7 linked regions of the Homo sapiens genome follow. The protein of the gene in region 4 purifies or fractionates together with the protein of the main gene of each other region. This does not show direct contact. Each region holds a gene or a part of one and is shown on either strand. Other genes may lie near its edges.

What was found.
Region 1: the proteins of CIMIP6 (region 4) and MCTS1 purify together in Homo sapiens (affinity purification with mass spectrometry; one large-scale study listed by BioGRID and IntAct). This does not show direct contact.
Region 2: the proteins of CIMIP6 (region 4) and GALE purify together in Homo sapiens (affinity purification with mass spectrometry; one large-scale study listed by BioGRID and IntAct). This does not show direct contact.
Region 3: the proteins of CIMIP6 (region 4) and HABP4 purify together in Homo sapiens (affinity purification with mass spectrometry; one large-scale study listed by BioGRID and IntAct). This does not show direct contact.
Region 5: the proteins of CIMIP6 (region 4) and MGME1 purify together in Homo sapiens (affinity purification with mass spectrometry; one large-scale study listed by BioGRID and IntAct). This does not show direct contact.
Region 6: the proteins of CIMIP6 (region 4) and SLTM purify together in Homo sapiens (affinity purification with mass spectrometry; one large-scale study listed by BioGRID and IntAct). This does not show direct contact.
Region 7: the proteins of CIMIP6 (region 4) and MTHFD2 purify together in Homo sapiens (affinity purification with mass spectrometry; one large-scale study listed by BioGRID and IntAct). This does not show direct contact.

What each region holds. Positions count from the first base shown.
Region 1 is NC_000023.11:120,607,101-120,610,600, forward strand, and holds part of MCTS1 (malignant T-cell-amplified sequence 1), read left to right. Parts: intron 1-1,124; coding exon 1,125-1,258; intron 1,259-3,500. UniProt on the Homo sapiens protein: Translation regulator forming a complex with DENR to promote translation reinitiation.
Region 2 is NC_000001.11:23,797,955-23,802,081, reverse strand, and holds the start of GALE (UDP-glucose 4-epimerase), read left to right. Parts: upstream 1-1,327; 5' UTR 1,328-1,370; intron 1,371-1,503; exon of another isoform or gene 1,504-1,695; intron 1,696-2,534; exon of another isoform or gene 2,535-2,645; 5' UTR 2,646-2,716; intron 2,717-3,069; 5' UTR 3,070-3,074; coding exon 3,075-3,195; intron 3,196-3,351; coding exon 3,352-3,467; intron 3,468-3,851; coding exon 3,852-3,965; intron 3,966-4,127. UniProt on the Homo sapiens protein: Catalyzes two distinct but analogous reactions: the reversible epimerization of UDP-glucose to UDP-galactose and the reversible epimerization of UDP-N-acetylglucosamine to UDP-N-acetylgalactosamine.
Region 3 is NC_000009.12:96,488,169-96,491,836, forward strand, and holds the end of HABP4 (intracellular hyaluronan-binding protein 4), read left to right. Parts: coding exon 1-106; intron 107-1,813; coding exon 1,814-1,870; 3' UTR 1,871-3,168; downstream 3,169-3,668. UniProt on the Homo sapiens protein: Ribosome-binding protein that promotes ribosome hibernation, a process during which ribosomes are stabilized in an inactive state and preserved from proteasomal degradation.
Region 4 is NC_000002.12:54,354,884-54,358,383, forward strand, and holds part of CIMIP6 (ciliary microtubule inner protein 6), read left to right. Parts: intron 1-3,500.
Region 5 is NC_000020.11:17,986,018-17,988,819, reverse strand, and holds part of MGME1 (mitochondrial genome maintenance exonuclease 1 isoform 2 precursor), read right to left. Parts: intron 655-2,802; coding exon 522-654; intron 1-521. UniProt on the Homo sapiens protein: Metal-dependent single-stranded DNA (ssDNA) exonuclease involved in mitochondrial genome maintenance. Has preference for 5'-3' exonuclease activity but is also capable of endonuclease activity on linear substrates.
Region 6 is NC_000015.10:58,892,180-58,895,679, reverse strand, and holds part of SLTM (SAFB-like transcription modulator), read left to right. Parts: intron 1-1,097; coding exon 1,098-1,247; intron 1,248-1,486; coding exon 1,487-1,590; intron 1,591-1,692; coding exon 1,693-1,859; intron 1,860-2,315; coding exon 2,316-2,401; intron 2,402-2,619; coding exon 2,620-2,783; intron 2,784-3,500. UniProt on the Homo sapiens protein: When overexpressed, acts as a general inhibitor of transcription that eventually leads to apoptosis.
Region 7 is NC_000002.12:74,208,615-74,212,114, reverse strand, and holds part of MTHFD2 (bifunctional methylenetetrahydrofolate dehydrogenase/cyclohydrolase, mitochondrial isoform A precursor), read right to left. Parts: coding exon 3,394-3,500; intron 2,174-3,393; coding exon 2,066-2,173; intron 917-2,065; coding exon 824-916; intron 375-823; coding exon 249-374; intron 1-248. UniProt on the Homo sapiens protein: Although its dehydrogenase activity is NAD-specific, it can also utilize NADP at a reduced efficiency.

The sequences.
Region 1 (3,500 bases), on a different chromosome or scaffold from region 4:
TTTTTTAAAATTGGGCTCTCTGTTACATAGTTTTTAAAAATTGATACGTCATAGCTGTACATTGTCTGCTGTTGTGGTGCCTGTATCCCCCACCACCTATATATATTTATAATAGTTGTACATATTTTAGGGGTACATGTGATATTTGATACCTTTATACAGCGTGTAATGATCAAATCAGGGTAATTAGGGTATCTGTCACCTCAAACGTTTATCTTTGTGTTGAGAAGATTACAATTCTTCTAGCTATTTTGAAATATAGAGTAAATCATTGTTAAATATAATTTCCTTATTGTACTCTCGAATACTAGAACTTATCGACCTGTATTTTTATACCCCTTAACCAACTTCTCCTCATCCCCTTGTAGTTTTTTTTTAAATTAACAGGCTTTTATTTTTTAGAGCAGTTTTAGGTTTCCAGAAAAAGTAAGCAGAAAGAATAGAGTTCCCTCTCCCCAGTTCAGATTCCCCTATGAATAACATCTTGTTTTGGAATGATACATTTGTAACAATTGAACCAGCATTGATACATTATTATTAACGCAAGTCCTTAGTTTACATTAGGGTTTACTCTTTGTATTCTACAGTTTTATGGTTTTTCCCAAATACATGTCAAGTATCTACTGTTAAAGTATCATACAGAATGGTTTTACTGGCCTAACATCCTTTGTGCTCCACCTATTCATCCTTCCTCCCCCCACTTCCCCAACCCCAGGTAACCACTGATCTTTTTAATCGTTTTTTTACTCTGCGTTTTTCACTTAACATTATATCACAAAAATTTCCCAGGGCATATTAAGTAGTCTCCAAAAACCATAGTTTTGAAATTACGGTTTTTGGAGAATACTTGGGATGCTGAGGCGGGAAGATTGCATGAGTCCAAGAGTTCAAGGTTATTGTGAGGTATTGATTGCTCCACTGTACTCCAGCCTGGGTGGCAGAGCAAGACCCTGTCTCAAAAAAACAAACAAAAAAGATTACCAATTTGGTAAACAAATGATAGTGTTTCAGAGTTTTCTTTTGTATCTGTCAGATTAATTTGGGGAAATACTGTTCAGATCCTTTGCCTTTTTCTGTTGAGTCATTAGTCTTATTATTAATATATTGTATATCTTTTCTTACAGATCCTTTTATCCTGCCACACCAGCAGGTTGATAAAGGAGCCATCAAATTTGTACTCAGTGGAGCAAATATCATGTGTCCAGGCTTAACTTCTCCTGGAGCTAAGCTTTACCCTGCTGCAGTAGATACCATTGTTGTATCCTTCCCAGGCTAAAACTGCTGAAAAATGTATTCATTGTGCTCTTATCATTACTGCGAAAGGTGTACCATCCAAGAGAACATTAGATGTACTTTTTTGAAGGTTACTGTTACTCTTATCTCATGCCTTTCTGGTTACATTTGAAGTTGTACAAAGTAATTTTATTTGTTGCTACTAAATTATCTCATCTTAGGTCGTTTCTTAGAAGTTAAATGAGAACAAGTTACAGAAGAGTCTCAGCTGCATTTCAGCCCAGTCAGGGCCTACTGTTATCAGACTTAGGACACAATAGGGAATTCTTGATTACTAGGGGAAAGGATATAGATGATATAATTGGATCAGCTTTTTGGATATCAACTTGCCACTGTAATGTTCATTTTGACTTACTGACATACGTTGGAGTGAAAGCTCTCAAAAGGGAAAAGAATTTAGGCACCAGGTATAGGTATCTCTTACCAAGCAACAATTTTGTGTTAGGAGTGAATAGTGGGAAATATTGGCAACCTCCAACTTTTATTTTGAAAATTAATTATTTGAAAAGTTGAGTTTGGGGGCCTCAGAGCACGTTTTCTCAAAGAGAAATGTCAGAGTCCCAGATGGTCCTTAAAGATCGATTCAACTCATGACATAGCTGAATAATTCTGCATTATTTCCATTTCTACCATGCTGTTTCAGCTATTTTCTGGATTAAATAGATTTTTGTGACTATTCTGGACAGGAGAACATCTTCTCCTTTATCATAGCTAAAGTAGCCATTTGCCTCGGGTATAGAAAAGGAATGGTACTTGGTGGGAATAGGGAAACTACTTTTAGAGTGTGTTTATCTTATTTTAGTTTTTGAGATGGAGTCTCGCTCTGTCGTCCAAGCTGGAGTGCAGTGGCACGATCTTGTCTCACTGCAACATCTGCCTCCTGGGTTCAAGCAATTCTCCTGCCTCAGCCCCTCGAGTAGCTGAGGTTACAGGCACCCACTACCACGCCCGGCTCATTTTTGTATTTTTAGTAGAGACAGGGTTTCACCATGTTGGTCAGGCTAGTCTCAAACTCCTGACCTCAGGTGATCCACCCGCTTTGGCCTCCCAAAGTGCTGGGATTACAGGTGTGAGCCACCACACCTGGCCAGGGGTGTGTTTAAGAAGAATAAGAAAAAAAAATGATATTCTCTGTTGGGGCAGTTATAGCGAAGAGGTAGTATAAGTAGTATGTTTATATTCTAGGAACAGCTTATGTTGACATGCTTTTTGCCTAATAGGTGCTCACATATTTGGAACACTGAGTGAATTGAAAATCAAGGGAGAAAAGTGAGGACGGGTTTTTTGTTGTTGTTGTTTGTTTTTAATATTTATTAAGTGTTGGTAAATTTATAGTTCTGGAGTTAACCTTAAATGGAAAATTTCCTTAGTACCTAGTCTTTACTTTTAAAAATAATTTTTATTTTGAAACAGTTACAGATTTAGAGAAAGTTGTTAAAGAAAATGGTACAGAGAGGTCTTGTGTACCCTGAATCTTGACTTTTTAAAATATGTACTGCAGTGTTTAACATTCCAGAAACTTCATATGTTAACCAAGACCACTCTGGTTTTTCTAGAAAGGTTGAAACTGTTATATCAGGCTCTTAAAGATAGACTGGGAATTTACCTATTATTTTAAAACAGCCTTTACATAAAACCACCATTCAGGCCGGGTGTGGTGGCTCATGCCTGTAATCCCAGCACTTTAGGAGGCTGAGGCGGGCAGATCACCTGAGGTCAGGAGTTCGAGACAAGCCTGGCCAACATGACGAAACCCTGTCTGTACTAAAAATACAAAAATTAGCTGGGTGGGGTGGCATGCGCCTGTAATCCCATCTACTAGGGAGGTTGAGGCAGGAGAATTGCTTGAACTCAGGAGGCAGAAGTTGCAGTGAGCTGAGATCATGCCACTGCACTCCAGCCGGGTGACAAAGCAAGACTCCATCTCAAAAAAACAAACGGCCGGCTATGGTGGCTCACGCCTATAATGCCACCACTTTGGGAGGCTGAGGCAGGCGGATCATGAGGTCAGGAGTTCAAGACCAGCCTGGCCAACATGGTGAAATCCCATCTCTACTAAAAATACAAAAATTAGCTGGGTGTGGTGGCACACGCCTGTAGCACCAGCTACTCGGGAGGCTGAGGCAGGAGAATTGCTTGAACCCGGGAGGCAGAGGTTGCAATGAGCCAAGACTGCGCCATTGCACTCCAGCCTGGGCAACAGAGTG
Region 2 (4,127 bases), on a different chromosome or scaffold from region 4:
GGCCGTGGGGCCCTTGCTCTCTGACTTCTCAGGACACAGGTCATGGAGGTTCTTCCCAAGCTGGCAGAGGCCATTTGTGGAAAGTGGAGAGCTACGTGGTGGCCGTCTGCCAACTCCAGCATCTCTGGAAAATCTCCACGCTGAATGTGATTTTTGAAAACAGCTTATGTAATTAAAGGTTGAATGGCACATCATAATTCCAGCATTCGGTTGTGCAGCTGTGTGTATACATGCGCGTGGGGGAGTAAAATACTTTACCATGTTGCACTCTGAGAGGAAAATGGAGACTATGAACTAGTTTATTAATCTTTGGATTTCCTCCCTGTTTCCCCACCTGAGCCCCAAATCCATAGTGACTGGAAATCAGTGGTTTTGGGCTTACTCAGGAGGCTGCTTGCGGCAGTTGCTGGCCAGAACACCCGACGGGGTTGTTTCTGAGCTTTGCCTCTGTGACTGGGGCTATTGCACAAGCTCCCCTGAGGACACACTTGCTGCTTTGGGCCTCGGTGGCCCGGCCTCTCCCTGGCGCTCCCGGGCCCGGGAGCGCTCACCTGTCGGTTCCCTGGACTCTGCGGGCAGGCGCTGGCTGATTCCCGGCTGCGCGGACACCTGTGCGCTCCTGCATTTAGGGCTCCTTTGCTCTGGTTTCATCACGCAGGATGTCACATTTTGTGCATATTATTCTCTAGCTCTACTACTTTTCATTGTAAACAAACAATCATTTTCTAACCTGCCGTCGTGGAAGGCAGAGTGCAGACCGACCCTTCCCGGCAGGTGGGGGCTGAGAGCCAAGAGCGCTGGAACCGCTAGTGTGGCCTGACAGCTTCCTCCAGCTCCTTGGTTTATTTGCAAACTGGACTTCCAGCACCAGGCCCCCTGCGACCCCCTCCTGCCTTAGTCCCGTGGGATCGGGTAGTTCAAGATTTTGAATTCATGGTTTGGCACACACCGGCAAGTCTGAAAACCTGCGGGTCAGAGTGGGGCGGAGGCGTGGGCCCCCTACCCTCTGCCCCCTGCCCCCTCGGAAGCGCAGCCCTCTTCCAGGGGTTGGGACGAGCTAGCGCGGGGACCCGGGGCACCGGCAAGGACCCACCCGCTACTGGGACCTGGCGCCGGCGGCGCCTCTCGCGGGGTGGCACCGCCCACTTCCGCCTTCCGCGGGCGCGCGCTGCGCAGTCTTCGTCACAGCGCGGAGGCCTTTTGTCCTCCCGCCCTCCCCGTAGTGGCCGTAACCCGAGTGACATGTTTCCTTGGGGGCGTGGAGGGGCGGGGTCGGGGCCGGAGTGGGCCGTCAGCACTTAAAGGGCCCGCGGCTCGGGCGTAGGAGGCGGTGCCTCTGCAGCAAGCGTGGGGCGCGGGAACCCGAGCAGGTTCGGGAGACGGAATGAAGGGCCGGGTGGGCTCGCGAGGGGCCGGGGAGTCCGCGGGGAGCGAGGGAGTTTCCGAGGGGCGGGTCGTGTTCCTGGCAGCGTCCCTCCAGGGCAGGCCCGCCCCCTTTGTCCCAGTTCCCCGCTGCCCGGGCTGGGGCGGCCGGGGTTCATTCATTGCCGGCCTGAGGACTCCTAGCTCGGCCCCGCTCCGCGCTACAGCCCAAAGCCCAGCCTGAGACCCAGCCGCCCTCGTATGCCCACGGCCTAGCTCCCCTTCCCTCCAACAGACAGACTGGGAAAACCGAGTGGGCGACGGCTGAGCAAGGTCACTCCGCTGTCGGGGGCGCAGCCGGCCTCAGACCAGCTTTCGTGCTTCCCAGGGCCTCTCTGCGACCACTTTCGGGGTCCGCGCCAGGCGCGGGGCGGGGGCGGGGGCGGCTTCGGCGCGGCGGGCAGAGTCCAGCGGGCAGCGGTGGGGGAAGGGCGAGCCGCCTGGGGAGAGGGCCGGGCTGCGAGCCTGGCGATCCAGATTCCAGCCCGCTGTCGCCAGCTGTGGGACCGAAGGGCAACTGTTTCACCTCTCTGGCCCTAGTATCTGTATCTGTAAAGTGCCAGTGATAACACCTGTCTCACCGAGATGCTGGGGGAATTCAGGAAAATCATGCAAAAGTGCCTGGTACGGAGCCTGGCACGCAGAGGGCTCTTGGTCAAGTGGGTTGGAGCTGCGTGAGCCCAGAAGGGGATAGAGGCAGCGTGGAGGAAGGCGGCAGCGGGCCCGGTCGCTGGGAATGAAAGGCCTCAGTGTCTGGGGCTTCCTCCCCGTACTACCCGCAGAGTTTGTTCAGGGTGGAGGTGCGCACCTGGCCAAGTCCACGTCTACACGGCCCACCCAGAGTAGCCTAAGTTGGGCGGGATTCCTAACTCTGAGCCAGGAGTGACCGGGCTGGCCCTGGCATGGGCAGAGGCTGAGCGGGGGTTGGGGTGGGGCCCCCTCCAGGACCAACCACGGTGTGGTTGCCCCTGAGCTGGCCTCAGCCTGCCTGGCAAAGGACCTCACCCTTGAGGCCATGTGATCTATTTCCTGCTTCCTCCCAGCTGACCCTTGAGGGAAAGGGGGTGGGGGCCGCCTAGAGCAGGAGGTATTAGTCACTGCGCCCAGGAGCCAGTTTACACCTAGCGAAGGCGGAGGCATTGGACAAGCCTGGGTCTGAGCAGACAGAACCCCTTCCTGCGACCCTGGAGTCCCAATCGTGCTGCCATTTTCCTTCTGCCCAGGACTCTCCAGTCCTCAGTCACCTTGGACAAAGAAGTGTGGATCCTCAGATTCCATCTTTTCCAACTCCAAGGCAAGTGGAACTAGAAAATAAGGTGCCTGTGTGTCAGGTCTCCCCAGCTCTGCTGTGGCGGGCCCTTAAGATCACCTCACTGAACCCTCACGCTGCCTCATGAAGTTTATACAATTATTAGCTCTGTTTTACAGAGATAGAAACTGAGGCCAAGAGGCTAATTAATTTCCAAAGCCTAAGGCCAGAAAGTGATGGTACCCAGACTTGCCCCAGGGCTGACTTCTGAGCCAGTCTGGTACCTAGGGCACACTGCCGCCTCCTTCCAAAGCGAGCTTAGGGGGCAGGATTCCAGTGGGAAGGAAGCTCTGAGCAGGCAGCCTCAGCCACCTCTGAGACTCTGTATCCTGGGCCAGGTGCCATGGCAGAGAAGGTGCTGGTAACAGGTGGGGCTGGCTACATTGGCAGCCACACGGTGCTGGAGCTGCTGGAGGCTGGCTACTTGCCTGTGGTCATCGATAACTTCCATAATGCCTTCCGTGGTGAGCGGGGCAGTGGGGCTGGGGCTACTTGAGGGGATGGCAGAAGCAAAACCCTGGGTTCCACCTCCACCACCGGGCGGGGAATGTGTGTCTGGCTAGTCCCTGGGAACACAGCACCCCATGTCGTGATGATGTGGCCTACATGTACCCTACCAGGAGGGGGCTCCCTGCCTGAGAGCCTGCGGCGGGTCCAGGAGCTGACAGGCCGCTCTGTGGAGTTTGAGGAGATGGACATTTTGGACCAGGGAGCCCTACAGCGTCTCTTCAAAAAGGTGGGTGCAGGCTGGGCACGGTGGCTCACGCCTGTAATTCCAGCACTTTGGAAGGCCGAGGTGAGGAGATCACTTGAGCCCAGGTGTTCAAGACCAGCCTGCTCAACACAGTGAAACCCCATCTCTACAGAAAAATACAAAAATTAGCTGGGCATGGTAGCCCATACCTGTGGTCCCAGCTACTCGGGAGGCTGGCATGGGAGGATGGCTTGAGCCTGGGAGGTGGAGGTTGCGGTGAGCTGAGATGGCACCACTGTACTCCAGCCTGGACAACAGAGCGAGACTGTCAAAAAAAAAAAAAAAGGTGAGTGCAGGCAGGCAGGCTGAGGGCATTGCCAAGGACTAAAACCAGTAGAGCAACCTCTGGCCATGTCACCCCTGCAGTACAGCTTTATGGCGGTCATCCACTTTGCGGGGCTCAAGGCCGTGGGCGAGTCGGTGCAGAAGCCTCTGGATTATTACAGAGTTAACCTGACCGGGACCATCCAGCTTCTGGAGGTGAGAGGCATGGGACAGGGCACAGACACTAGGAGGGTGTCCAGCTGGACCCCAGCCTGGCAGGCAGTGCCAAACACAGAGCCCAAGCTGTATCATCCTGGACTCATGTCTTTACCTCCCAGTCTCAGTTTCCCCATCTGTAAATGAGAGTGCTCATCACCT
Region 3 (3,668 bases), on a different chromosome or scaffold from region 4:
TTTTGGTAACCTCCCTCGTCCTGGGCGTGGAGCCAGAGGAGGCACCCGGGGAGGCCGGGGAAGGATCAGGAGGGCAGAGAACTATGGACCCAGAGCAGAAGTGGTGGTAGGTGTCTGTATTGACGGTTTGGCGAAAGAAGTTAATAAGGACAGTGCCCTGGGCCCAGGATGGTCTAATTTCAGAGGGTCATGAGTTTCTGCAGTCACTTCTTTCTGTAGCTAGTGTGGGACTGATGTTGGGGCATTTGGACGGTGTTGTAGCATCATGGACATCTTGCCTAGAGACCGTTCTGTAGCCCTGGCTTCCAGGGTCTGCTGTGAAGGCACTCCCGGGATCAGAGAGAAACTCACTGTCACCCGCATTAGACAAGATCCCCAGGCTTGGGATTGAACTGGAGCACCTGACGTTTTGCTTACTGTGGCCTGATTGTGTGCCTTGGGCTCAGGTGATGCTGTCAGAGTGGACAGAATCCTCCCTAAGATCTCAAGCCCTTTGTGAGGGGACCTTCCTCAACCCCTCCCCGGCTCACCTGCCTCACACCGTCCTCAGCCAAGGCTGCCTGATTCTAGCTCTCAACACAGCACGCTCCTTACCCCTGGCCTCTGCCTGCTGGCCTCCATTCATCCTTCCAGCCTCACTTCCTCACAGGTTTCTTTGATCACATCTCCTAGACCGATCAAGGTCTCGGAGCAAAGGAGTTTCTTTTCATTGAAGCCTGATCTCCGTGTGCGGCTGTATTCTCACTGGTGTGGCTATCGGTCAGCGGCTGCTTTTGCTCATTACCGGTTTACGCAGTGCCACGCAGTGCCTGGCATGTAGTAGGTGCTTCCTAATGTGGTATGGACACTTATTCATTGGAAATCAGCCCCGAGGCCCCATGGCACAGACCCCTTCTCTGTGGCTGGTCTTGGCAATGCTCCTCCTGCTGCCCGGTTCCCTCGCTCTAGGGAGCAGCCCCTGGAAGCAGTGTCTATGGTTTGTTTTTGCTTAAGCAGGAGCAAAAACACAATTTTTTGGGCGGGGGGTGTAGGGGTATATTTGGGGCCAGGTTGGAAATAGGGTCTATTCTGCGATAGGAAACACACCCTCACTCCTTTCCTATAGCGGAGCTCTGTCCCCTGCAGCACTCCAGGGAGTGTGTTGGGAAACCACTCTGAGATCCAGTGCCACCCACCTCTTCACTGGCATCTGTCCCCACCTCCACAACCTGTGCATCCCTCCACCTCAGAACCGCCCTTAGGGCCCGCCCCCGCCCCCATCAGGTCACACTGTTTCCCAATCCAAGTCCTTGTTCCCTTTGCTCATCCATTGAGGTTCATCCCAGGGAGAACCTTCTCTTCCCACAAAACCTTGCCTGACCTTGGTGTCCACTGTGCCACCAAATTGCACTGGATGGCCCTCCTGTGGCCCCTCCTTCCCAGGACGTGTTAGTGAAGCTCCTGATTCGATGGTCAGTTTCTCCAGCACCGTGAGCTCCCCGAGGATAGGCACTGTCTGTGCTCCTCCAGTGCCCGGCACGCAGTAACCATTCTATTTACTCGATGAAGGACGTGCCCATGCAGAACCCCCAGTAAGAGCTTGCAGGACGTAGGAAGGGAGGCAGCTCCTTTTTCGAGGAGGCTGGAGGCCTGTGTGGGAGGGGGAGCTGTACTTTCCTGGGTTAGCAGTGACCTGTGACTCTCCCCTTCCCACTGTGGGTCCTGCCTCTAATGCAGGCCCCTCAGCGTTGGTGCCAGGCCCTTGTTATCCCACTGGGATATCGGGAATGGATGAAGGGGCAGTGGATTTCAAAGTATTTCTTTTTTTCTTTAGATGCAAGATGTTGCCCCCAACCCAGATGACCCGGAAGATTTCCCTGCGCTGTCTTGAAAGAGCCCTGTTTCCCAGCACCGCGGAGCTGCACTGCACACCTGTGGGGAGACTTTTCCAGCTGGGCCAAGGGAGTCAGACTCTAAGAACAATAGATGTTGCTTTTCCCGTGTCATGTAAATTTGTTGCACTTTTTTGGGCTGAGCTGTTAGAGGGGCTTCTCCAGAGGCTCGAGAGCAGGCCATTTCCCAAGAAGATGAAGAATGGTGACTGTGTTTTTATTGAAGGAATTTCAAATGAAGAATAATGTTTAAAATGTGTATATAGAGATAGTATAGACTCCTCCGCGGAAGCATGGAGGGAAAGGAGGTTGTAAAATAGACTCCATGGAGACTCTTAGGAAGCAGTAGATTCCCGGGGGCTGTGCCTTTAGCGTTAGAGGAAACACATAGAGCTGGAACTGTTAATGGAAAGCAGTCACAGCTGAGTTTTCGGAGACCAAGAAATTAAAATACAATTGCACTTACTGTTTACTTGTAAATGTTATCTTCTCTCCTGGAATATTTTGAGTTCTGGTTTTCACTTAACCAATCATTTAAAAATCGCTATTGTGTAGCCACTGGCCACCACTCTGTGACACAGAATCAGAGAAAGCGTTGATTTTTAATGGTGATTTAAACTACCTCGTGGTTTCTGTGTGTGTGCACACACACATCTAGTGTTTGGGTGGTTTTTAGGAAGAATATTAAGTATGTGACTTCAAAAACCATGTTATTTAACCTGCCAATCAAATGGAAAGGGATCATGGCAAAAGCAAATACCGCATCCTTTTCTTCCGCAGAACTAGAGTCAGAGTTCGGCAGCTGCGTACAAAGGCCTCTGCCCTCGGCTTGAGCAAAAGTTGTAAATAACTAGTATTTATTAAGCACTTATAAGCAGTTTTTCTCACTTAGTCCTGGCTCCAGTTCTAGAGTTCCTCTTTATTGCTTTTGGTGAAAGTTTGGGGTTGGGGGTACACCTCAGAGGTTCAGTAATTCACCTGGAGTCCCACCCTGAACAGAGCTGGACCCAGAGCCACACACGCCCGGGAACACACACTGTGCTGGGGAGGAAGTGGGCCTAGGAGGGCCTGCAGGTCCAGGCAGCTGTAGAGCTGCTAGAAGCTGGGGTGTTGCTCTCCCCGCTTTCTCATAGACACAGAGGTACTGTCTGCCTGTTGTCACACAGTTCATATGCTCGCTTGAGATGGAATCTGAACCTTGGTCCCAGGATCTGTGCTTTTTCCCACTTTGCCACACTGTCTAAGGTGGCTTTGAACTGGAACCCAAGTGCAAATAAAGGTTGGTATTCGCTCCTGACTTTGTGTAGAGAAAACAGTCCTTTGGTTACTCCAGGCCACAGCAGTCGGTCATGATTTTGTTGAATAATCAAAGTTGAATCCATACACGTTAGGGTCAGTTAAGGATGTTTGCTTTGGGTGATAGCCTACTTTTGGTCTCTTATTTATTATCTGAGTACTAAGGTTTATCAACTGAGTGTTTTCTTCCCTTTCCTGGAAAAGGCAATGGATGCAAGTGCCCTGATTTCTGAAATCTGAACCTAGCCGGTACAACATCAGGGCTGTGTCATGAGTCAGTGGCTTTGAAGCTGTCACACTGTCATTTTGCCTAACTGCGGCTTTGAAGATTAGCCAGAGAGCCCTTTGAAGAAACTTTCCTTTAGTGTTGTGAATAATACTTGAAAAGCCCACAGCACTTGGTTTAATGTTGCAGTTGCAAAAACACTGACAGTTCCTATCCCATAGAGCTGTTGAGTCATGTGGTTGAAGACAGTTTTGGGGAACCCGGTGCACGTTCTG
Region 4 (3,500 bases):
ATAATACTTAGAATTTTCTGTTCTTTAATCCTTATCTTTTTCAGGAAACAAAAATTTTTGTTATTTTCTTCCTTATATATCAGACATCCTCTTTGATTTATTTCTAGTCTTGAATTCTTCCTCTAGTTTTTCAAAGTAGGTCTGTTTTGGGGGGAAATCATCTGAGGCCTTCCTTTCCTTCCCATGTTTTTGAAATTTTGGCTTCACAGTTAAATGAAAATTTGGTTGGATATAAAAACTCTAGGCTTAAAGTGCTTTTCCTTTTAATATTAAAAAAATTAATTATCTTGTGTCCAATGTTGCTATTGAGAAATTTGATATTAACCTGTTGTTACTCCTTCATAATTTACCTCTTTGAAAGCATTTATAATTTTTCTTTGTCCCAGATGATGTTAAATTTCTCTATTAAATGTCTTAGATGCGAGTTTTTCCTTTATCTGTACTGCAAGATCGAGAGGAGAGTGAGAAACCCAACTAGGGTGTAAAATTTAAGGAGGCACTCACTCCCAGGGTCATGCAAGTGCCTCCTTAAAGTTTTGCATCCTTTGTGTCTCATTGCCTCATTTTTCTCCTGCCCCTGCTACCTGTTTGGTATTCTGTGAGCTCTTTCAATCTGAGGTGTTTGAGCTTTCTTTAATTCTTGGATATATATCATCATCATTTTCTCAAATATTTCCTTCCCTTCCCTCTATTTCTTCTTAGTTCTGGTGTTGATACTTCCACCTTCCATGTCTCTGAGCTTTTCTTTATTTCTTTATCCTTTCCTGCTGCCTTCTGGGACAGCTTCTCAGTCTGATTTTCTAGTTCATGATTCTTGTTGTCTAGACCATGTATTTTTTTGTTTCAACTGTTATATTTTTTATTTCTAACATTTTTTGTTATTCCTTTTTATGACCTGTTCTTGTTCGTATTAACAATACTTTGTTCTGTATCTTTGAGGATATTTGTTATGCTTATTTTAAATTCTTGGTATATTGGTTCTGATAATTCTCCTTCACACAGTATATGTTTTAAAATTTTCTTTTATGGTCAAATTTATGGTAGATCATATTCCCCTAGGGGAATCAGTAGGCCTGTGCAGACAAAGGCTGAAGACCAGGGTCTGGTTTGTATGTCTCCCACTAAATTTGAGGAAAGAAAATGAGGCTCAGGCCAGAGAGCTTCTGGTATCACAAAACCTATTTAGACCATTGTTAATTACTGTCACTCTACTAGGCTGGTCATGTAGTCAGGAATCCACCCTACCACCCTTAAACTGTTAAAAAAAAAAAAAAAAAGGCATCACTGAGATAAGTCAGTATCTTGATGTTTTTAATTCACCAGCATTGACGGTTGCTGGGGGAATGTTGGAGGAAGAAATGCCCAAGGGGGCAACATGTACCCATTTTCATCAGCTCGTTATCCTGGAGGGACTTCTGCGCGCTTCTGCTATTACTGTATTGACAACAACTGGCTAGGCAGTTGCTGCCAGTTTCTGTGGCCCTGGGCAAGCATGATCTTCCCAAGGCAATGTGAGGGAAAGTCAAGAGCAGATTTTAAAAGCTCTCCCACAACTTATTCTTCTTGGCTACATCTGACCTTCCTACCCTCCAGTCCAAATTGCCACCAACCCTTCGTACCAGTTCACTAAAGCCTTTGGGTTTCTCACAGTTTTTTTTTGGTAGCTCCGGTTCCTGCTTCCTTTTCCCTTCCATGGTTTCCCCTTTTGTCAAGATACAAAAGAGCTGGCCCTTTGCTAACTTTGAAGACTCCATAATTTGACCCTAGCATCCTAGAGACTTCACAAACACTGCCCTTAATTTTCACAATTCAAAAAGCAAATTATTGTTTTCTTCATTTTAGAGAGGAGGAAATAGAATTTCAATGAAGTTCAGTGATTTATTTCAAAGTCACACAACTAGGAAATGTGGTAAAGCCAGAATTTGAAAACATGTCTATTTTATTACCAAATGCATGCTTTGGATACTTCATTACCACCACCTAATTAATGCCTAAATTTAGAGCCGCTTCATTCTGTCTATACACGAAGTTATGAAACTGTGTCCGCACATACTAATGTTCTGTGAGTTGGACCATGATATTCATAAAAAAAATGGTCATCTTTTCCCACTTGGTGGAAAAAAATATAAATTATAGATAGAATTTTCTCAGTGTCATGCTTATTAAATCTTTGCACTACTGTTTTCTGTTTTCTAGCAAGTTCTAAAAGAAAGGTAATGATTAAGTAGAAAATGAGTTTTGAGCAGTTGATTGCAATTAGAAATCAAGAAAATGTTAACAGTTAACTTTTTTTATACTGCTAACTGGGAAAAGATTGCCATTTTGTAACATGTAATGTATAAGTATTTGAATATTAGTCATGCTTGCTAATAAAATTAGTTTATAACAATGTCTGAATATCAAAGTGAATTCATGAATGCTTAATACATGTAAATTTACTAACATTTTTTCTTATGTATTCCTCTAATTTTAAAGGTGTGATTTTTAAAAGTTAAATTTTATTTTTTAACAGTTGATATAAGCATATGGCACAAAATTCAAATGGTACAAAAAGATATACAGTGAAAACTGAATCTACTTCTCCCCACCTCTGTCCTCCAGTCACCCAGTTCTCTTTCCCTACAGTCACCACTGTTACCAGTTTGTTACATAGCATTTCACAGATATGTTCGTTGTACATAAACTCTTACGTACTTTTTTTTTTTTTTTTTGAGACACAGTCTTGCTCTGTCACCCAGGCTGGAGTGCAGTGGCGCGATTTTGGCTCACTGGAACCTCTGCCTCCCAGGTTCAAGTGATTCTCCAGCCTCACCCTCCTGAGTAGCTGGGACTATAGGCGTTCACCACCACGCCCAGCTAATTTTTTTTTTTTTTGTATTTTTAGTAGAGACGGGGTTTTCACCATGTTGGCCAGGATGGTCTCGATCTCTTGACCTTGTGATCTGCCTGCCTCTGCCTCCCAAAGTGCTGGGATTACAGGCGTGGGCTACTGCGCCCAGCCACATACATATTTTTTAAGGGAGAAATTTTTGTCCTTGATAGAATTTTACTTCACTAAACTTTTTTTATTGCCAGCAACAGTACTGAAAGTTGCTCTGATCTTTAAATAACCTTCTCTGCTGAAAGTAAAACTGAGTTTTAAAAATTATTTAAGATGTTAAACATACATGGAGCACAGACCAATATAATGAACTCATATACTCATCACCCAGATTGAAAGATTATTTAGAAGTGATTTTTAAAGGATTTCATACTCTTGCAAATTTTTCAGAACCCCTGTTATTGGGCGAAATGAAAAGAATTATGTGTTCAACTACAACTGCAGCAGCCCTAGAGTCTTCCAATTCCATTAGTGCTAGCTTCGGCATACAATTTCTACCCTGTGGCCACAGCCACTGGCCAAACTATAGATTCAACATAGAATTTCTCATACTCTTTCTAGTCGTGAAAAGTTAACAAATTATAGTTATGTTTTCCCTAAAATGTATTGGTATCTGTGT
Region 5 (2,802 bases), on a different chromosome or scaffold from region 4:
AAAAGTGCTTTTTTAAGTGGGAAAGGAACAAGGAAGACGTTAAGCAATGGGATAAAAATAGAGATTAAAAAAGGAAAAACCTCAAGGAGTTCTATTTTTTAACTTTTTTTTTTTTTACAATTTTTCTCCTCCTACCCCCCCACTGAGAAGTTTTTTTTTTTTTTTTTGAGACAGATTCGAGATGGAGTCTCACTCTCTTGCCCAGGCTGGAGTGTAGTGGCGCAATCTTGGCTCACTACAACCTCCACCTCGCGGGTTCAAGCAATTCTCCTGCCTCAGCTACTAGAATAGCTGGGATTACAGGCATGAGCCACCATGCCCAGCTAGTTTTTGTATTTTTGGTAAAGACAGGGTTTCACCATATTGGCCAGGCTGGTCTTGAACTCCTGACCTCAAGTGATCCACCGGCCTTGGCCTCCCAAAGTGCTAGGATTACAGGCATGAGCCACTGCGCCCGGCCCGGAGTTATAGTTTTAAGTAAGCATTGAGCAAAGCTTTAAGTAAAGGCTCAGTGTCCTGACCTGAAAGCTGTAGTTGGTATCATGGTTCATGGCACCCATGTATGCCACAACTTGCAGTGGGTTGTCAAATGTACTTTGAATAAAAGGCTTTGGTTTCTCTGATGTCTTCCAATCAATCACACAGAGCTTGCCCCTAAAGAGAAACCACAGGAAGACTTTGTAGGTAATAGATCACAATGAAAATCTCTACTAGGTTAACAGTTCTCTTATGTATAGTTTGTTACTTGTCAGCCAATGACCATTGCTCTTATTCACCATTTTTTTCCTTTTTTAAAAAAGAGATGGGGTTTCATATGTTGCCCAGGCTAAACGCATACTCCTGGGCTCAAGTGATCCTCCCACCTCAGCCTCCCAAGTAGCTGGGACTATAAGTGCACCCCCCCACTTTTTCTCCCTCTTTTTTTGCATCAAATAACCAGTGGATTCCTCCCCCCATCCCCTATCCTGGTCGGGTTTATACTTGCCAAATGCAAATATCAAAAGGATACAGAGAGTGGACCAGTAACTGGTGACTCTCAAAGGACTCTATCGGTTCAATCTGTCTTTCATGACTTCAATTTCAAAATCAGCAGTTTATAGGGAGATTTTGTACAAAGCATGTATATTACTTACATGTCACTATAGCTCTAGACAGTTACACCTCATGCAAACTCAGTCTAGAGCAGCACTGGCTAAAAGAAGTAAAATGTGAGCCATGTGTCATTTTAAATTTTCTAGTAGCCACATCGGAAAAGAAAAAAAAAATACAGCTGAAATTTTAACATTTTACTTAACCCAACATATCCAAAATATCATTTCAACATGTAATCAACTAACAAATGATTAATGGGATATTTTACGTCTTTTTTTTATTATAGGGATATTTTACATTCTTTTTTGTACAAAGTCATTGAAATGTAGTTTGTATATTGCTATAGCACACCTTAGTTTGGCCTGACCACATTCAAATGCTCAATAGCTATAGGGGTTAGTGGCTACTCTACTGGACAGTTTAGGTTTAGAGATAATTTTATTGTCTTCAGAATTGTTTTGTAATATTGCCAAGTTTGACAATCTGTGTAGTTGAGAAAAGGGCCCCAGTAACTCTAGGATGCCATTCCTGGTTCTTCTTTTTTTTTTTTTTTTTTTAGATGGAGTCTCACTCAGGCTGGAGTGCAGTGGTGTAATCTCGGCTTACCACAACCTCCGCCTCCTGGGTTCAAGCTATTCTTCTGCCTCAGCCCCCTGAGTAGCTGGCATTACATGTGTGCGCCACCTCGCCCAGCTAATTTTTGTATTTTTAGTAGAGATGGGGTTTCGCCCTATTGGCCAGGCTGGTTTCAACTCCTAACCTCAAGTGATCCACCCGCCTTGGCCTCCCAAACTGCTGGGATTACAGGTGTGAGCCACCATGTTATATTTCTGCCACAGAACACTGTTTGCAGCAATGTACTGTAATTGTAGAACTTAATAAATGTAAAAAAAAAAACCTTAATAGCATTCTGAAAACTATAAAATATTGATGAAAGAAACTGAAAATGATACAAATAAATGGTAAGATATCCTCTGTTTATGGACTGGAAGAATATTGTTAAAATGTCCATACTATCCAAAGCAATCTATAGGTTCCACGCAATCTTTATCATAATTCCAATGGCAGGCCAGGTGTGATGGCTCACACCTGTAATCTCCAGCACTTTGGGAGGCCAAGGCAGGTGGACTGCTTGAGCTCAGGAGCCCGAGACCAGCCTGGGCAACATGGTGAAACCCTGTCTCTATAAAAAATACCAAAAAATCAGCCAGGTGTTGTGGCTGGAGCCTGTTGTCCCAGCTACTCAGGAGGCTGAGCCCAGGAGGTGGAGTTTGCAGTGAGCCGAGATTGCACCACTGCACAACAGCGTGGGTAACAAAGCCAGACCCTGTCTCAGGAAAAAAGAAAAAAAAAAAATTCTGCCGGGCACGGTGGCTTACACCTGTAATCCCAGCACTTTGGGAGGCCAAGGTGGGCAGATCACCTGAGGTCAGGAGCTCCAGACCAGCCTGGCCAACATGGTGAAACCTCGTCTCTACTAAAAATACAAAAATTAGCCAGGCGTGGTGATGTGCCCCTGTAATCCCAGCTACTCGGGAGGCTGAGGCAGGAGAATTACTTGAACCTGGGAGGCAGAAGTTGCAGTGAGCTGAGACTGTGCCATTGCACTGCAGCCTGGGCGACAAGGGTGAAACTCTGTCTCAAAAAGAAAAAAAAATTCCAACATCATTTTTCACAGAAATAGAAAAAAAAAAATCCTAAAATTAACAC
Region 6 (3,500 bases), on a different chromosome or scaffold from region 4:
AAACTATATGAGGATACCATTTATTTGGTAAGAAGACCCGTGGAGTTAAAAAATAAATGGCTATGGAGCAAATCAGCCTTTCCTAGGGTTGAGGTAAAAGTTGATTTGTTCCAGCCACCCATACCATAAAACTCCTGATTTTCCTGTTTACTTCTTCCCAGCTTTATGTCTTTACTCTTCTTTGTTCAGCACCGAATCGTTCTCTCTCTTTTCTTCTCACTCATCCATCCCTGCTTTGTCTCTCTTAACTAACCATCTTACACAATTGCAATTATTTGTCATGTTCATATACGTTTTAAAAGCACATAGATTGAAAGTGTTGTCTTTCAAGCTTTAGGGTGTTTTTCGGGGGATGCATTTTTAAGTCCGCTTTTTTATATGTGATTGGTTCTTTACTCATTATAGAAAAGTGTTAACACTCATCAATAAAATACTAGAAACTTTCTCTAAAGACATTCAGGGTGGGCCTATGATAGGGATATTTTGGTTCAAATCCAATTTATTTGCTTTTATTAATTGTGCCATTACTTCATTGATGAGATTGTGTTTTGGCTACATATTTGAGGGGAGGAAATAAATATAAAAAGGTTAAATTGCTTTTTGGCACTTTAAATTGTTCCCCTGAATATTTACTAAGATGGGTAACGTAGATGGTGATCACAAGAATATGAAATAGGCTGGCTGCAGTGGCTCATGCTTGTAATCCCAGCACTGTGGGAGGCCGAGGTAGGCCGATCACCTGAGGTCAGGCCTTTGAGACCAGCCTGGCCAACATGGCAAAACCCTATCTGTACTAAAAATACAAAACTTAGCAGGGCATGGTGGTGCATGCCTGTAATCCCAGCTACTTGAGAGGCTGAAGGAGGGGAATTGCTTGAACCCAGAAGGCAGAGGTTGCAGTGAGCTGAGATCACACCACTGCACTCCAGCCTGCGTGACAGAGTGTGACTCCATCTCAAAAAAAAAAAAAAAAACATGAGACAGAATAAGATACACCCTGAATTAATATATAGTTTCAGTTGTGAAGTTTCATGTATTTAGAAGTCTGTGTACTTGGAACGTTGTAAAACTCTCTAAAGTACAGTCTGATTTTATAGGTTCTGAGTGCAAAAGTAGTTACAAATGCTCGAAGTCCTGGGGCAAAATGCTATGGCATTGTAACTATGTCTTCAAGCACAGAGGTGTCCAGGTGTATTGCACATCTTCATCGCACTGAGCTGCATGGACAGCTGATTTCTGTTGAAAAAGTAAGCTTCCCTAACTGTTTATCAAAGCAAGTCTAATTTGATGGCTAGTTCTCAACTCATAGCTGTTAACAGTAGCAGGGAGTAGAATTTGCAGTGATTTTTAATTTTTATGTATTTGTAGTTTTTACTCTCCTTATATTTTTCCTATCGTTTCCAAATTTTCTGCCATTAGCACACTTCTTATAATCACAAAAATGTAACCATATGTACAAATTGTTTTTCTGGTTCGAACCTTTCAGGTAAAAGGTGATCCCTCTAAGAAAGAAATGAAGAAAGAAAATGATGAAAAGAGTAGTTCAAGAAGTTCTGGAGATAAAAAAAATACGAGTGATAGAAGTAGCAAGTAAGGATTTATTTTTATTTATTTATTTTGATAAGCAGATAGACTTTTTTGGTACATTATGAAGTACTCATTCTGTTTTTTTGTCTGGGGCGGTATGGTCAGGACACAAGCCTCTGTCAAAAAAGAAGAGAAAAGATCGTCTGAGAAATCTGAAAAAAAAGAAAGCAAGGATACTAAGAAAATAGAAGGTAAAGATGAGAAGAATGATAATGGAGCAAGTGGCCAAACATCAGAATCGATTAAAAAAAGTGAAGAAAAGAAGCGAATAAGTATGCTATACATCTTTTCAATCCCTTTCTAATGCATTCTACTACTTAATTTTTACAGTGGAAGGGAAAACCTGAAATTCTAATCCAGATATAAGCTTTGTTGTTAGGTGTCATTGTGGTAGGAAAGGAGGTCTAGTAGGAGTAATTGTCTTCTTTTCTACTCTGGGGAAACAAACAAATGTATTCTTCCAGCTAAGCTCCTTTGCTATTCTGGGCTGACTTAAAATGGTCATTGATTAGTACTATTGAATTAGGATCTTTTGGTATCACTGAAAGTATTTATGTTAGCAGACTGAACTGTTTAAAAAACTCTTTGCATTGAAGTTCTTGTAGAATAAGTAGTTTTTTTATTTCATGTATTGGTGTGTGACTATCAGAATTTAGCATTTTTACATACATATTTTCTTTCTCAATGAAAAATTTTAGACATTGTTTTATATAATTTTTTTCCCTTAGGTTCCAAGAGTCCAGGACATATGGTAATACTAGACCAAACTAAAGGAGATCATTGTAGACCATCAAGAAGAGGAAGATATGAGAAAGTAAGTCTCTGATCAGGATGGTTGTATACTACTTCAGCTGTTTACAAAAGAAGATAATTCTGTTTTTCCATAACCATCTTTGCGTACTTGCATGCTAGCAAACCCAAGAAAAAGGAAATGTTACTAGTCATTTGAACTTTTTAAATGACCTACTAAACTTGAAAAATAAAGCCCCAAAATATTTTAATTTCTAGTGTTCTTCTAATTTTTTTCTACAGATTCATGGAAGAAGTAAGGAAAAGGAGAGAGCTAGTCTAGATAAAAAAAGAGATAAAGACTACAGAAGGAAAGAGATCTTGCCTTTTGAAAAGATGAAGGAACAAAGGTTGAGAGAACATTTAGTTCGTTTTGAAAGGCTGCGACGAGCAATGGAACTTCGAAGGTAGGAAGAGAGTCTGTTTTATACCTGTCTTTAAATATAGGTAAATATTTAACACTAGTTGTAAGCCATATTTCTGGAAATTGTATTCCCACAGAAAACTGTTTGCCACCTTAAAGAAGTTACGGTAGCATCTAATGATTTCTTAAGTTTGCATAGCACTTTACAATTTACAAAGTGCTTTTCCATCTGTTGTCTCCAACTCAACAGTTCTGTAAGGCTAGTTATGCCCATTATACAATTGAAAAAAATGGAGGCCCAGAGAGGCTAAATGACTCTTCCAATGGCCACATGGCTAACAAGTGGCAGAGTCGGGACTCAGACCCAAGTCTTCTGACTCCAAGTCCAATGCTCTTTCCTCAACACCAAAGCTGCTGCCATAAAAAACATGACTTCAAAGGAAAAATTTGAGATAAGATAGTTTCAAAGTAGCTACAGTGTTCAAATACTGTAATCTGAAATTTTAACAAATTTAGCAAAAATTTATTGTTTGCATTAGTGCCTAAGAGAAGGAAGATTTGCCCTGTGAGCCTAATGGTATTCGGATTATATCCCAAAGCAAGCATTCTCTTTAAAACAAACGGAAAATATAAACAAAGCAAGATGTTTCCATTTTTAGTGGCCATATCTCAACAGTTCACGAGTGTCAGTTTACTTTTGTATATCAATTTTTGGATGCCACTTAAAATAGTCTTGTGGGTGTGTTTTATAGTATATTAT
Region 7 (3,500 bases), about 20 Mb from region 4:
CACACCTATAATCCCAACACTTTGGGAGTCCCAGCTACTCGGGAGGCTGAGGCAGAAGAATAGCTTGAACCCAGGAGGCAGAGGTTGCAGTGAGCCGAGATCGCGCCACTGCACTCCAGCCTGGGCAACAGAGTGAGACTCCCATCTCAAAAAAAAAAAAAAAAAAAAAAGTAAATAATCTATCCTAAATGTCCATGAAAGGTAGTATTTATTGATTTCATTTTTAAAAATAAAATTTCACCATTTACCTTCAAAATCCACATCTCCAACCAACTTGGGTTTGGCAGTTACAGGATCGTGAACTCTATTTATTCCCACATCAATGACTGCTGCTCCTTCCTTGATCATATCTGCTGTGATCAGATTTGGAATACCTGGAAATGGAGAAAGGAAAGATCAACTTAGTACTGAAAACAGTCTACCTGTCAGATTCTTGTCTAACTTCAATTTCAAGAGACCCTGAAGAACTAATCAACATGTTTTATTAAAACCTGTTAAAAATATTAACTAAGGAACTATTTACTTTTATTATTTTTTTATTTTGGCTCCTGACAGGAAACAAAAGGAACCATTTAAACTTTATACAGTAAATATTAATATAAATATTTTGAAGCTTTAGGAATAACATTCACCCATCTAGACTATAATGGACTGCCAGAAACCGGTATTCCAATCACAACTCTATCCTCATCTTTGTAGGCAGCTCAAAGAATCATTACAAGGGGAATGATGAATAGCAGCTAGGCAGGCGAATTCTAAGATGAGGGGTACAACCTCCTCTTCTGAGGTGAAGTCCTTCCCTCCATCCCCCTTGTGTTCTTACCTGCAGCAGATATTACAATATCTGCAAGAATTGTATGTTTCTTCAACTGCTCTTTGGGAGTATATCGATGAGATATTGTAACAGTGGCATCACCTAGAAAGAAAAAAATAGATGTCTTGATTTCTGACACAAAGCTGGGATTGGATTAGGTCTCAACTAGTCAAGTCATTGTAGAAACTCAACATCTCTGAAAAATAATTGACTTACGGCCAGGTGCAGTGGCTCACGCCTGTAATCCCAGCACTTTGGGAGGCCGAGGTGGGCAGATCACCAGGTCAGGAGTTCGAGGCCAACCTGGCCAACATGGTGAAACCCCGTCTCTACTAAAAATACAAAAATTAGCTGGGCGTGGTGGCGCATGCCTGTAATCCCAGCTACTTGGGAGGCTGAGGCATGAGAATCACTTGAACCTGGAAGGTGGAGGTTGCAGTGAGCCAAGATTGTGCCACTGCACTAGCCTGGGCAACAGGGCAAGACTCCATCTCCAGGAAAAAAAAAAAAAAAAACTGACTTAATGGCTTGTGCCATGTTTTCTGAACAGCTAATTGTCATTTACTTTTTTAAAATTAATACCTAATATCATATAGCTTTAACCCATTGGTCCCAGCTCGACTGTTTTGAGTCATATAATTAAATTTATTCATCCTATTTTTAAAGCCTTTCAAGAATTTTACCTTTTCTAAGCAAAATATCACTAAAATTACTCAAGGTTGTTTTAAGTATGTTGAAAGATAGTTGAAAGTATATAGTTTTGCCTTTATTTCTGATATAATCATGTAAGGTCATTATTACAATAATTATGTGATAACTGATTGACGAGGCTTTACCTTAGAACCAATTAACAGAACCTGACAGGACACATTACAGTCATACCAATCCAATCCTTTGCAACGGCTAAAGATTTTTTTCCACTAAATGACACAGTATCTTTGAATAAGAATTGCTCCTTAGCTCCAGCTATCAAAGCTATAGCTGAAATTTTCTAATTGCCTACAACCATGCTTATACTCAAAACTTAAATTTATTTCTGAAGCTAGTTACATGATAAATGAATAATAAAGAAACTCAGGTGACACTGGGTGCAGCTTCTCTACAAAGGTTACTCCCTGAATTGTCTGTTAACAAAATTTCAACAAATACAAAGTATAACAGAGTTAATACTTCCAAACATGCACAGGATGGCTTCTGAAAGTTCTTACATGGGGAAAAAAGGACAGTGTTCCCTGAAAGCAATTTCCTTACCTCCGGGACGTTCATGCGCCCCATCTGTGTGCAGTAACATTGCAATGGGCATTCCAACGTTTTTTGACCTTCCAGCCACAACCACATTCTTCCCTAGGGTTGGAATGCCTATAAAAATATATGTATTGACATTAAAAGTAGTGCCAGTCCAAAGGAAAACAAAGTCAGATGGCCTAGAACATGAACCCAATTTTGCCTCATCAGTCAACTGGAGCTGTAACTTGCTACACATAATAAGGGCTAAAAGAAAACAGGAGAAAGCATACTACAGGCTACAAAATGTTACAGGAATGTGCACTGTCACCACTATCAAATCTTAAATTTCCTTCACTGAGGGCTGGGGCGGTGGCTCACACCTGTAATCCCAGCAGGAGGGAGGATTGCTTGAGGCCAGGGAGGCTAAGGTAGGAGAATTGCTTGAGGCCAGGAGTTTGAGACCAGCCTGGGCAGCATGATGAAACCTCTGACTCTTAAAGAAAAAATTAAAAAGAAAAATAGAGGCCACGCGCGATGGCTCACACCTGTAATCCCAGCACTTTGGGAGGCCAAGGCAGGTGGATCACAAGGTCAGGAGATCAAGACCATCCTGGCTAACACGGTGAAACCCCGTCTGTACTAAAAATACGAGAAAAAAAAAAAGTTAGCCAGGCATGGTGGTGGGCACCTGTAGTCCCAGCTACTCAGGAGGCTGAGGCAGGAGAATGGCATGAACTCAGGAGGTGGAGCTTGCAGTGAGTCGAGATCACGCCACTGCACTCCAGCCTGGGCAACAGAGCAAGACTCCGTCTCAAAAACAAAAAAAAAGAAAAAGAAAAATAGAAAATTTCCTTCACTGAGACTTCTGGATTAAAAAGCAAAAACTGTCATAGGCAACTGTTAAGGGCAGGCACGATGGCTCATGCCTATAATCCCAGCACTCTGGGAGGCTGAGGGGGCGGATCACCTGAGGCCTAGTTCGAGACCAGCTTGGTCAATATGGTGAAACCTGTCTCTACTAGAAATAAAAAAATTAGCTGGGCATGGTGGCACGTGCCTGTAATCCCAGCTACTCAGGAGGCTGAGGCATGAGAATCGCTTGAACTCAGGAGGCAGAGGCTGCAGTGAGCCAAGATCGCGCCACTGCACTCCAGCCTGGGTGACAGAGCAAGACCCTGTCTCAAAAAAAACAAAAAACAAAAAAAAAACTGTTAAGAGAGGTAAACTTTGGGGAGTAAGACTAGAGGATATGCAGTAGGGTTTCCACTCTTTGGGACTGTATGAGTTTTTACCATTTGCCAGTACTACTTTTATAATATTAACACAGACATGCAATTCTGGGATATACCTACCAGTTCGCTTGATTATTTCCCACACACCCCATGGAGTAGCCGGTAACATGGAATACTGATCCAAACACATTCGTCCTACATTAATTACATGAAAGCCATCAACATCC